Regions from separate parts of the Homo sapiens genome. Here region 2 is linked to region 1. The links come from fine-mapping of genetic effects on gene expression. A gene starts in region 1. The other region holds a variant in brackets. All regions are shown on one strand. Distances are between the middles of the regions.

Region 1 (5,000 bases):
ACACACACACTCTGTCTCTCACAACACACACCACACATATACACACTCTCTCTCTCACACACACACATACACACACACAACTGACAATAAGAAACAAAAAGGTAGCATCCAGCACAAGAGCTTGTCAGTTCTCTTGAACATCAGACAGACCTAGATCTTCAGTTCCCGCCTCTACCCCTCACTGACTCTGAGACCTGGAGCGTGTCACATCCATTCTCAGAGCTTCAGAATCCTTAGTTGGAAAAATGGGCATGCCTACAACTCAACATACAGTGACAAATAATCCAGTTTAAAAACGGACAGAGGATTCGAATAGACATTTCTCGAAAGAAGACACAGAAATAGTCAATAGCACATAGAAAGATGCTTCACATCACTGGGTGCGGTGGCTCATGTCTGTAATCCCAGCACTTTGGGAGGCTGAGGCGGGCGGATCACCTGAGGTCGGGAGTTCGAGACCAGGCTGGCCAACATGGAGAAACCCCATCTCTTCTAAAAATACAAAATTAGCTGGGCATGGTGGCAGGTGCCTGTAATCCCAGCTACTCGGGAGGCTGAGGCAGGAGAATCACTTGAACCCAGGAGGCAGAGGTTGTGGTGAGCTGAGATCGCACCATTGCACTCCAGCCTGGGCAACAAGACTGAAACTCCGTCTCAAAAAAAAAAAAAAAAAAGATGCTCCACATCATTAGTCATTAGGGAAGTGCAAATCAAAACCACCATGGGATACCCCTTCACACCCACTAGGGTGGCTTACCATAAGACATACAGACACTAACAAGTATTGGTGAGGGTACGAAGAAACTGGAGCCCTCATACATTGCTGGTCAGATTGTAAAATGGTGGTCACTTTGGAAAACAGTTTGTCAGCTCCTCAAAAGGTTAAAAAAGATTTACTACATGACCCAGCAATTCCAATCCCTAGTATATTCGCAAGAGAATTGACAACCTATATCCGAACAAAGACTTGTAATGAATGTTTATAGCAGCATTACACATAACAGCCAAAAATGGAAAAGCTGGAATTACAGGTGCGCATCACCATGCCTGGCTAATTTTTGTATTTTTAGTAGAGACGGGGTTTTACCATGTTGGCCAGGCTGGTCTCGAACTCCTGACCTCAAAGTGATCCACCCGCCTCAGCCTCCCAAAGTAATGGGATTACATAGGTGAGCCATGGCGCCTGGCCCTGAATTATACACTTTTAAAGGGTGAATTTTATAGTAGTGAATTACATCTCAGTAAATCTGTTATTTAAAAAAAAAAAAAAGAAAGAAAGAAAAAGGAAAGACTCCACCCACAGGATTGTTGTGAAAGTGAAATAAGGCAGGGAGCAGGGCAGGCCCAGCATGGTCCCTGACGTGCAGCCAGCACTTGAGATCTCTCTCTCTCTGATCCTTTTCACAAGGAGGATTTCCCAGCAAAAGTAACCTGGTGCTTTAGGGCTACACTAGCTTGAGTTCACTCCCCACCACTCCCACTAACACACACTCCTGACTCCTTAGTTAGGGCTCTGAACTCTTCTGGGCAGTTTCTTAACAAAACAGAAGAAAATAATAAGCACAAGACCATAATCATTCTCATTCCCCTTAAAAGGAAACTAGGTTGGCTTGAGGCCTAAAAGCCAGGGTGCTCTGAGCAGAGGTGGCTCTAGGACAAGGATGACAGCCTACGGGGGTGGGTGGGGGGAGCTCTGAGAGGTCTGCCAAGCCCCCCTCCCCTTGGGCCACACCACCTGTGCCTGAGCCCCCAACAGGCAGCAGGGCCCCCTCCCCATGGCCCAGCTCTCTGGCATATCCTCCCCGGGGGTGCCTTTGAGCTGGAGGCAGAGGACGGCTGACTTCTTCCTTCCAAGTCTCCCAAACCTGGCTGGCAGCCCAGGGTGGCTTCCTCCAGGAAGGGCAGAGAGAGGGGCAGCTGCCTGTAGTCACTGATGGTGGTGCAGAGGCTGAGACATTTGCGGGAACACCCCTCCCCTCCTAAGCTGTTAGGTTCCATAACAGTGAGGGTGTGAGGTGCCTTCAGAGATCTAGCTGGACCCTTCATTTTACAAGTAGGGAAACTGAGGCTCAGAAAGGTCAAGGGTTTTTCTGAAAGTCTTGCAGCAAGTTGGTGACAGAATTGGGAGCTGGTCACCTACCATGGCCAAGTATAGGCGGGTGGAAACCTCAACACAACCCAGGAAGGTGAATATTTGTCATCCTCCCCTGAAGTAGAGACAGGTTCTCACACAGCTAGGAAGATGCAGAGCTGGGACTCAAACCCAGGTCCACCAAGGAACCACACAATATCAAGCCTATTGAGGACACTCTTTCTCCCGATTTCCTTAAAAGCTGACACTCCACCCCACTGCTCACCCAGCCCCATGTCCCATTACCTGTGGTCCTTCAGCTTGTCTGGGCAGCAAGGGGAGCTCTGTGTAGACTATGTGGATGCTGGGCTGGTCAGGGGAAGGAGAGGACAGGCTGCACCTGTGACAGCAAGGAGGGCGGGACTACCGTGACGTTGTCCCTGGGCCCCACTCGCTCACTGGGATGGCATTCCTTCCTGCTGGTGCTATCAGCCCCAGGCCTTCCTGTCTGACTTGACTCTTCCCTACAACACTGCGGAGGGGCAGGTGGGGCAGCTACATGCCTGGTCCTGCCTCAGGGCCACAGCCATGCCTTCAGACTCCAGGAGACAGTGAAATGGGGGCAGCTGTGCCACCCTTGGCTGTACCAAGCTCTGGGAAGGAAGGAGGGGACGTGTCCCAGGTACCCCCTCCACCCACATTGGTGAGGCTGACTCAGGCCCCAGCCACGTGTCCCAACCTGCCCTGCGCGTCCCAGAGGGGAAGGAAGATATTCCAATGCTCCCAGGAGGCTGAGGTTGGGCAGGGAGCAGGAGAGAGGGCCTGGGGGCTCAGGAGACTGGCAGTGCCCACTCCTAGGGAGGAAACTGGGTTACAGCTAGAAGTACTTTTGGAGAGCACCCACTCGCCTTGTGCAAGTGGGAAAACACAGGTCCCTAGAGAGGTGAGAGGAGCAGTGTCAGACCTCACACAGCCGAGGGCAGGGCCCCAGCTCAGCTTGCCTCCACCTCTCACCTCTCACTTATCCAGCACTGTGGCAGCAGGACAGGAAACAAGTCCTACCACGGGAGCCCCCAGCCTTGGAGGGAAACAGGCAAGGCCCAGGAGCTGTGGGCTCCCCAGGAGGACTTCCTGAAGAGGGGTCTTCCATACCCTAAGCTCAGCCCCCAGATCTTGACACTTTGCTTTCTCACACTCTGTATCTGACCCATCTGGAAAATCCTGTTGGTCCTGCCTTCAGTATAGCCTGAATTCAGCCCCTTCTCTCCACTCCTCAACTGTCACCTTGATCCAGCCAGTGTCAACACTGGGCTCCCTGCTCCCCGCCTCGCCCCTGGCTATTCTCATCAGCCAGGCAGCCAGGGGGTCCTGTTCAAACCCAAAGCAGCTCATGTCCCTCCCCGCTCAGCAGCTGCCACACTCCCACTGCACTCAGGGTAAAACCCAAGGTCTTACAAGCCCCTGCGAGATCTTCCCCACACCTCTGGCCCTCTCTGACCTTGGTTCCCATGACTTCCTCCCTCACTCTGCTCCAGTAACACTGGAACATGTTCCAGTTCCCCTGGGTGGGCTCCCTCCTCAGGGCCTTTGCCCTGGCTGTTCCCTCTGCCTGGAGTGCTCTCCCCCTAGAAAGCCACCTGGCCCCCCGCTCACTTCAGCTCTCTCCTCACAAGTCACCTACTCCATGAAGCCTTATCTGACCATCCTGCTTAAAGTAGTAACCCCACACCAGCTTTCCCTCTGCCTGCTTCACTGCTCACCATCTGCTGTGCTGCATATTTTCTTGTTATGTCTATTTTCTCATTACGTATTGCTTTGCTACAGGACCTAGGATCATGTCTGACAGTAGGTGCTCACTAATTTTTTTTTTTTTTTGAGTCAGGGTCTCGCTCTGTTGCCCAAGCTGGAGTGCAGTGGCACGATCATCACTCACTGCAAACTCAAACTCCTGGGCTCAAGCCATCCTCTCACCTCAGCCTGCTGAGGAGCTGGGACTACAGGCATGCACCCCCACGCCTGGCTGATTTTTATATTTTTTGTAGAGACAAGATCTTGCTATGTTAGGCTGGTCTTGAACTCCTAGCCTCAAGCGATCCTCCGGCCTTGGCCCCCTAAAGCTCTGGATTATAGGCGTAAGCCACTGCATCTGGCCCTCAATACATTTGTTGAATGAATGAGTGACCTGAAAGGTTAGCCCAAGAAGTGTTCCAAGGATATTCCATGCAGAGGGAGCCATGTGTGAGGGCTTAGAGGTGAGGAGCACTATTGTGTGGAGGATCTGCAAATAATCCTGAACAGCCAGAGAGTGGGGGCCTTGGGGATGGAGAGGGGAGAGGAGGAAGCAAGAGAGGCAGGGCCTCAGCAGCCAGGCATCCTGAGAGGGATGGGGAGCCACCTGAGAGGGACATGACCAAACCTGTGTTTAAGATAAGAATTTTGCCTGGGAGCCGTGGCTCACGCCTATAATCCCAGCACTTTGGGAGGCTGAGGCAGGTGAATCACTTGAGTCCAGGAGTTCAAGACCGGCCTGGCCAACATGGTGAAACTCCATCTCTACTGAAAATACAAAAAATTAGCTGGGTGTGGTGGTGCATGCCAGTGGTCCCAGCTACTCGGGAGGCTGAGGTGGGAGGATCACTTGAGCCTGGGAGGTGGAGGTTTCAGTGAGCAGAGATGACACCACTGCACTCCAACCATGGCAACAGAGTGAGATCTCATCTCAAAAAAAAAAGAAAAAGAAAAGAAAAAAGATAAGGATTTGGCTGCTGCATTGTGGACTGGTGGAGAAGCTGTGAGGATCCAGCATCTGGGTGAGCATGAGCCATGCAGGGGAGATGGGGACTAGGGACAGGGTCGTGGGAAGTTTACAGCTCTGCTGTCCGAACAGTAGCCACCAGCCACATGCGGTTATGGAGCCCTTGACACATGG
Region 2 (5,519 bases), 30 kb before region 1:
TAGGCCACATTTTGTTTACCCATTCATCTGTTGATGGACACTTCGGTTGTTTCCACTTTTTGGCTATCATAAACACTGATGCTATGAACATTGGTGTACAAGTACCTCTTTGAGTCCCTATTTTCAATTCTTTTAATTTTTTTTTTTTTTTTTTTTTTTTGACAGAGTCTTGCTCTGTCGCCCAGGCTGGAGTGCAGTGGCACGATCTTTGGCCTGGCCAACATGGTGAAACCCCATCTCTACTAAAAATACACAAAAATTAGCTGGGCGTGGTGGCTTATGCCTGTAATCCCAGCACTTTGGGAGGCTGAGGCGGGCAGATCACTTGAGGCCGGGAGTTTGAAACCAGCCTGGCCAACATGGTGAAATCCTGTCTCTACTAAAAATACAAAAAAATTAGCTGGGTGTGGTGGCATGTGCCTGTAATCTCAGCTACTCAGGAGGCTGAGGCAGAAGAATCGCTTGAACCTGGGAGGCGGAGGTTGCAGTAAGCCGAGATTGTGCCATTGCACTCCAGCCTGGGAGACAAGAATGAAAGTTGGCTCAAAAAAAAGAAATAGGCAATTACTCTGCTGAGTGTTAGGAACTCCAGCCACTGGGAAAGCCCAGGGGGCTGATGGTGAGCACACACCTCAAGTCATACTGTGGATTAGACCTTTGGAATGTCTTCAAGTTTACCCTTCCTATCTTTTCCTGTGGCCACCGGTCCCCCCTGCCTCTAATCTCACCCCATTAGTCTGAGTCCTCCAAGAAGCAAATACCAGGATAAGATTAAATTGTGCTAGGATTTTATTAAAGAAAACACGTGTAGCAGGGAAACGGGGAGGGAGCTGGGAGGGTTGGGATGTAAGTCCAGCCCCAGGTGAGGAAGAGAGGGAAAGAGGGTTGGGTAGAAGGGTCCTAGTTGGCCATGCAGTCTAAGGAGGGTTTGGCAGGGTGTCGGGGAGTCCTTAAGCCAAAGTCAGCTCAGAGAAATCCCATGTCTCCTAGGAATGGGCCTGCCTTAGCATCCCACTCTTGGCAAAGTCATCAGGTGGGGGCATCTCAAGGGAACTGTGTCCTTGCTGCAAACAGAGTACAGCAGTGCTTGGTCAATTAGGATCCCTAGAGTTGGAGGCCTGTGAGGCTCATTCTCATCCCTCCACAGCCCCCACAGGGCTACCAGAGGAGTGCAGTGATCTTTCTGAAGTGCAGTCTCACTATGCCATTTTTCTGCTCGAACTCCCTCCAAGGCTCCCTGTTGTCCTTATGGTCCTTAGGCTAGTGTCTCAGCTCTTTATCTCAGGTATCAAGGTCCTGCTGGGGGAGGGGAGCAATTAACCTCTGTGCTCTGTTGCCCACCTGTCCTCGGCCCTACTCAGATCTTGGATGCCTCAACTACACTGGGCTGACCCCTTGTTGCTCTGAGACGTGCTATCCTCTTTTTTTTTTTTTTTTTTTGACAGAGTTTCGCTCTTGTTGCCCAGGCTGGAGTGCAGTGATGCCATCTTGGCACACTGCAACCTCTGCCTCCCGGGTGCAAGTGATTCTCCTGCCTCAGCCTCCCGAAGTAGCTGGGATTACAGGCGTCCACCACCACGTCCAGCTAATTTTTGTCTATTTTTAGTTGAGACAGGGTTTCACCATGTTGGCCAGGCTGGTCTTGAACTCCTGACCTCAGTGATCCACCCGCCTTGGCCTCCCAAAGTGCTGGGATTACAGGCGTGAGCCACCGCGCCCGGCCGTGCTATCCTCTTTTATTCCTCCACGCCTTTGCCCATGCTGTGACCTCTGCCTGGATAGCCCTTCCCTACATCTCCCAGCTCCAGTGTTAAGTGCTTCCCTCAGCTTCCTAGGTTTAGTCAGCAGCGTCCCTTCGCTCCATCTCTGGTACAGGCCCAGATCCTCTAGAGTAGACAGAAGATTCCAGGGGCTGTGTCGGGAGAACAGGATAAACAACCGCCACAGTCCTCTCGGACTTCTCTTGAAGGGACAGATGTCCCTTCAAGTCCCTTTTGGGCATATGCGCAGAAGCGTATGTGCAGAAGTATTAGTTTAAAAGCTGATAATATACCATGCTTTGTTTATTCATTCACCCATTGATGGACACTTGTGCTTCCCCTTTTTGGCTACTGGAAATAATTCTGCTTTGAAAATGGGTGTACAGATATCCCTTCAAGTCCCCTTTGGGCATATGTGCAGAAGTAGAACTGCTGGATCACGTGGTAATTCTATTTTTAGTTCTTTGAGGAATCACTATACTGTTTTCCATAGCAGAAGTTGAAATTGAATTAAAAAAAATCTTCCCGGCACAAGCTGGCTTGTATGGTTTTGAAATCTGTACTCTCACCCTCCCTCCACTGTGATCAAAGCAGAAATCTAGCACACAGCATCCAGGACAGCCAAAGACCAAAGCCCATCCCCTTCCACATAACCTCCTCCTCACCCCTCCACTTTTCAACGCTGCCTTCCTGGGCTCAAGATTCAATGCTTTATTTTTAGCCCACACGTTGGACTGGGGCTCCAGGAATGCACTTGATGCCTGAGGTGTAACCAGACCCCTGCGTGCACCACTTTTAGCTCCCGCCTTTAGCTTGACATGATAAAAAGCCTTCCACAAAGCAGCTGTAAGCTTGTGGGCCGCAGGCCTGATCCAGTTTTATTTAACCACTGATAATTTGAATTTTTTTTTTTT[T/A]AAAAAAGTGGTCTGGGTGCAGTGGCTCACGCCTATAATCCCAGCACTTTGAGAGGCCAAGGTGGGCGGATCACTTGAGGTCAAGACTTCAAGATTAGCCTGGTCAATATGGTGAAATCCTGTCTCTACTAAAAAAAAAAAAAAAAAAAAAAAAAAATTCCAGGTATGGTGGCAGGTGCCTGTAGTCCCAGCTACTTGGGAGGCTGAGGCAGGAGAATCCCTCAAGTCTGGGAGGCAGAGGTTGCAATCGTGCCACTGCACTCCAGCCTGGGCAACAGAGTGAGACTCCATCTCAAAAAAAAAAAAAAGTGGCCGGGCATGGTGGCTCACGCCTGTAATCCCAGCACTTTGGGAGGCTGAGGCGGGTGGATCACGAGGTCAGGAGATCGAGACCATCCTGGCTAACAGGGTGAAACCCCATCTCTACTAAAACTGCAAAAAATTAGCCAGGCATGGTGGCACGTGCCTGTAGTCCCAGCTACCCAGGAAGCTGAGGCAGGAGAATCGCTTGAACCTGCGAGGCGGAGGTTGCAGTGAGCCGAGATGGGGCCATTGCACTACAGCCTGGGCGACAGAGCAAAACTCTGTCTCAAAAAAAAAAAAAAGTGGTAAAATAGACATAAAATTAACCACCATAACCATTTTTAAGTGTACAGTTCAGTGGCGTTAAATACTTTCACAGTGTTGTGCAATTATCACAACCATCCATATCTAGGGCTGTTTTCATCTTCCCAAACTGACACTCTGTCCCCATTAAACACTAACTCTCATTCCCCGTCCCGCAGCCTCTGGCACCCACCATTCCACTTTCTGTCTCTATGAATCTGATTACTCTAGGTACCTCATATATATGGAATCATAACTGTATTTGTCCTTTTAACATAATGTTCTCAAGGTTTATCTGTGTGGTAGCATGTGTCACAATTTCTTTTTTTTTATTTTTATTTTTTTCTTAGAGACAGAGTCTTACTCAGCCACCCAGGCTGGAGTGCAGTGGCATGATCATGGTTCACTGCAGCCTCCACTTCCTGGGCTCAAGTGATCCTCCCACCTTAGTCACCTAAGTAGCTGGGACCACAGGCATGTGCCACCACGCTTGGCTAATGTTTTTATGTTTTGCAGAGATGGGGTTTTGCCGTGTTGCCCAGCCTGGTCTTGAACTCCTGGGGTCAAGTGATCCTCCTACCTCAGCCTCCCAAAGTGCTGACATTACTGGCATGAGCCAGTATGCCTGGCTAGAATTTCCATATTTTCCCCCTTTGGTTTTTATTTTTTTGTGAAGTCTCAAATAATTTCCTTTTTTAAAAACTGATAATATACCATGCTTTGTTTATTCATTCGCCCATTGATGGACGCTTGTGCTTCCCCTTTCTGGCTACTGGAAATAATGCTGCTTTGAAAATGTGTGTACAGAGATCCCTTCAAGTCCCCTTTGGGCATATGTGCAGAAGTAGAACTGCTGGATCATATGGTAATTCTATTTTTAGTTCTTTGAGGAATCACTATACTCTTTTCCATAGCAGAAGTGGAAATTTAAAAAAAAAAAAAAATAGTTGCCAAACTCTAGATTTGGGGCTTCTGCTAAGAAACTGGAGGTCTGACCCCAATGGTCTTGCACTTGCAGAACCAGCCTCCTCAGGCCCCTCAGAGACACCTCCCCAGCTAAGCAGTGCCCTTTCCCCAGAGGTCTGGGTCCCAGCTCTGGAGGACCCTCTCTCAATCTTCTCACACTTTATTTATTTATTTATTTATTTATTTATTTATTTATTTATTTATTGAGACAGAGTCTTGCTCTGTCGCCCAGGCTGGAGTGTAGTGGCGCTATCTCGGCTCACTGCAAGCTCTGCCTCCCAGGTTCATGCCATTCTCCTGCCTCAGCCTCCCGAGTAGCTGGGACCACAGGTGCCCGCCACCACGCCCGGCTAATTTTTTGTATTTTTAGTAGAGACAGGGTTTCACCGTGTTAGCCGGGATGGTCTCCATCTCCTGACCTCGTGATCCACCCGCCTCGGCCTCCCAAAGTGCTGCTGGGATTACAGGCATGAGCCACTGCGCTCGGCTATTTATTTATTTATTTATTTACTGAGACGGAGTCTTGCTCTGTTGCCCAGGCTGGAGTGTAGTGGCATGATCTCGGCTCACTGCAGCCTCTACCTCCCAGGTTCAAGTGATTCTCCTGCATCAGCCTCCCAAGTAGCTGGGATTACAGGTGCCCGCCACCAAGCCTGGCTAATTTTTGCATTTTTAGTAGAGATAGGGTTTCACCATGTTGGCCAGGCTGGTCTCGAACTCCTGACCTCAGGTGATCTGCCCACCTTGGCCTCCCAAAGTGTTGGGATTATAGACTGAGCCACCGCACCCAGCCTCTCACTTCTTTTTTTTTTTTGAGACAGAGTCTTGCTTTGTCTCCCAGGCTGGAGTGCAGTGGTGCGATCTCAGCTCACTGCAAGCTCTGCCTCCCGGGTTCATGACATTCTCCTGCCTCAGCTTCCCAAGTAGCTGGGACTACAGGCACCCGCCACCACGCCGGGCTAATTTTTTGTATTTTTAGTAGAGATGGGGTTTCATCATGTTAGCCAGGATGGTCTTGATCTCCTGACCTTGTGATCCGCCCATCTCGGCCTCTCAAAGTGCTGGGATTACATGTGTGAGCCACCACACCTGGCCCCGGCCTCTCACTTCTAATAGCTACAACCTCTTTCCTTTTTCTCTCTAGCCCTAGGCAGTTCCCTCAGTTACACTTTGTGATACTATGGTCCCTTTCTGCGTTTCTAGTAGTCCTGCACCTGGTTAACATGTCCCTCTATTAAATTCTTTCTGTTAAAGCACCTGGTGTGGTTTTCGT

Evidence for each region. PIP is the estimated chance that this variant, and not a neighbour inherited with it, causes the effect. A credible set is the group of variants that fine-mapping cannot tell apart.
Region 2: its variant is the best candidate, but not a certain one, in a credible set for the expression of TMEM40 in whole blood (TOPMed, PIP 0.58).

Annotation. Positions count from the first base shown.
Region 1 is chr3:12,756,814-12,761,813 of GRCh38, forward strand. TMEM40 (transmembrane protein 40) reads right to left here and starts at 2,446. Exons shown (of 12, transcript NM_018306.4): 1 at 2,378-2,446. RefSeq lists enhancers at 1,314-1,493, 2,449-3,034 and a silencer at 3,059-3,148.
Region 2 is chr3:12,726,985-12,732,503 of GRCh38, forward strand. No RefSeq gene overlaps it. Among named protein-coding and RNA genes, the nearest start is that of TMEM40, 30 kb to the right of the region's middle. The variant T/A (reference allele first, on the strand shown) is at 2,675.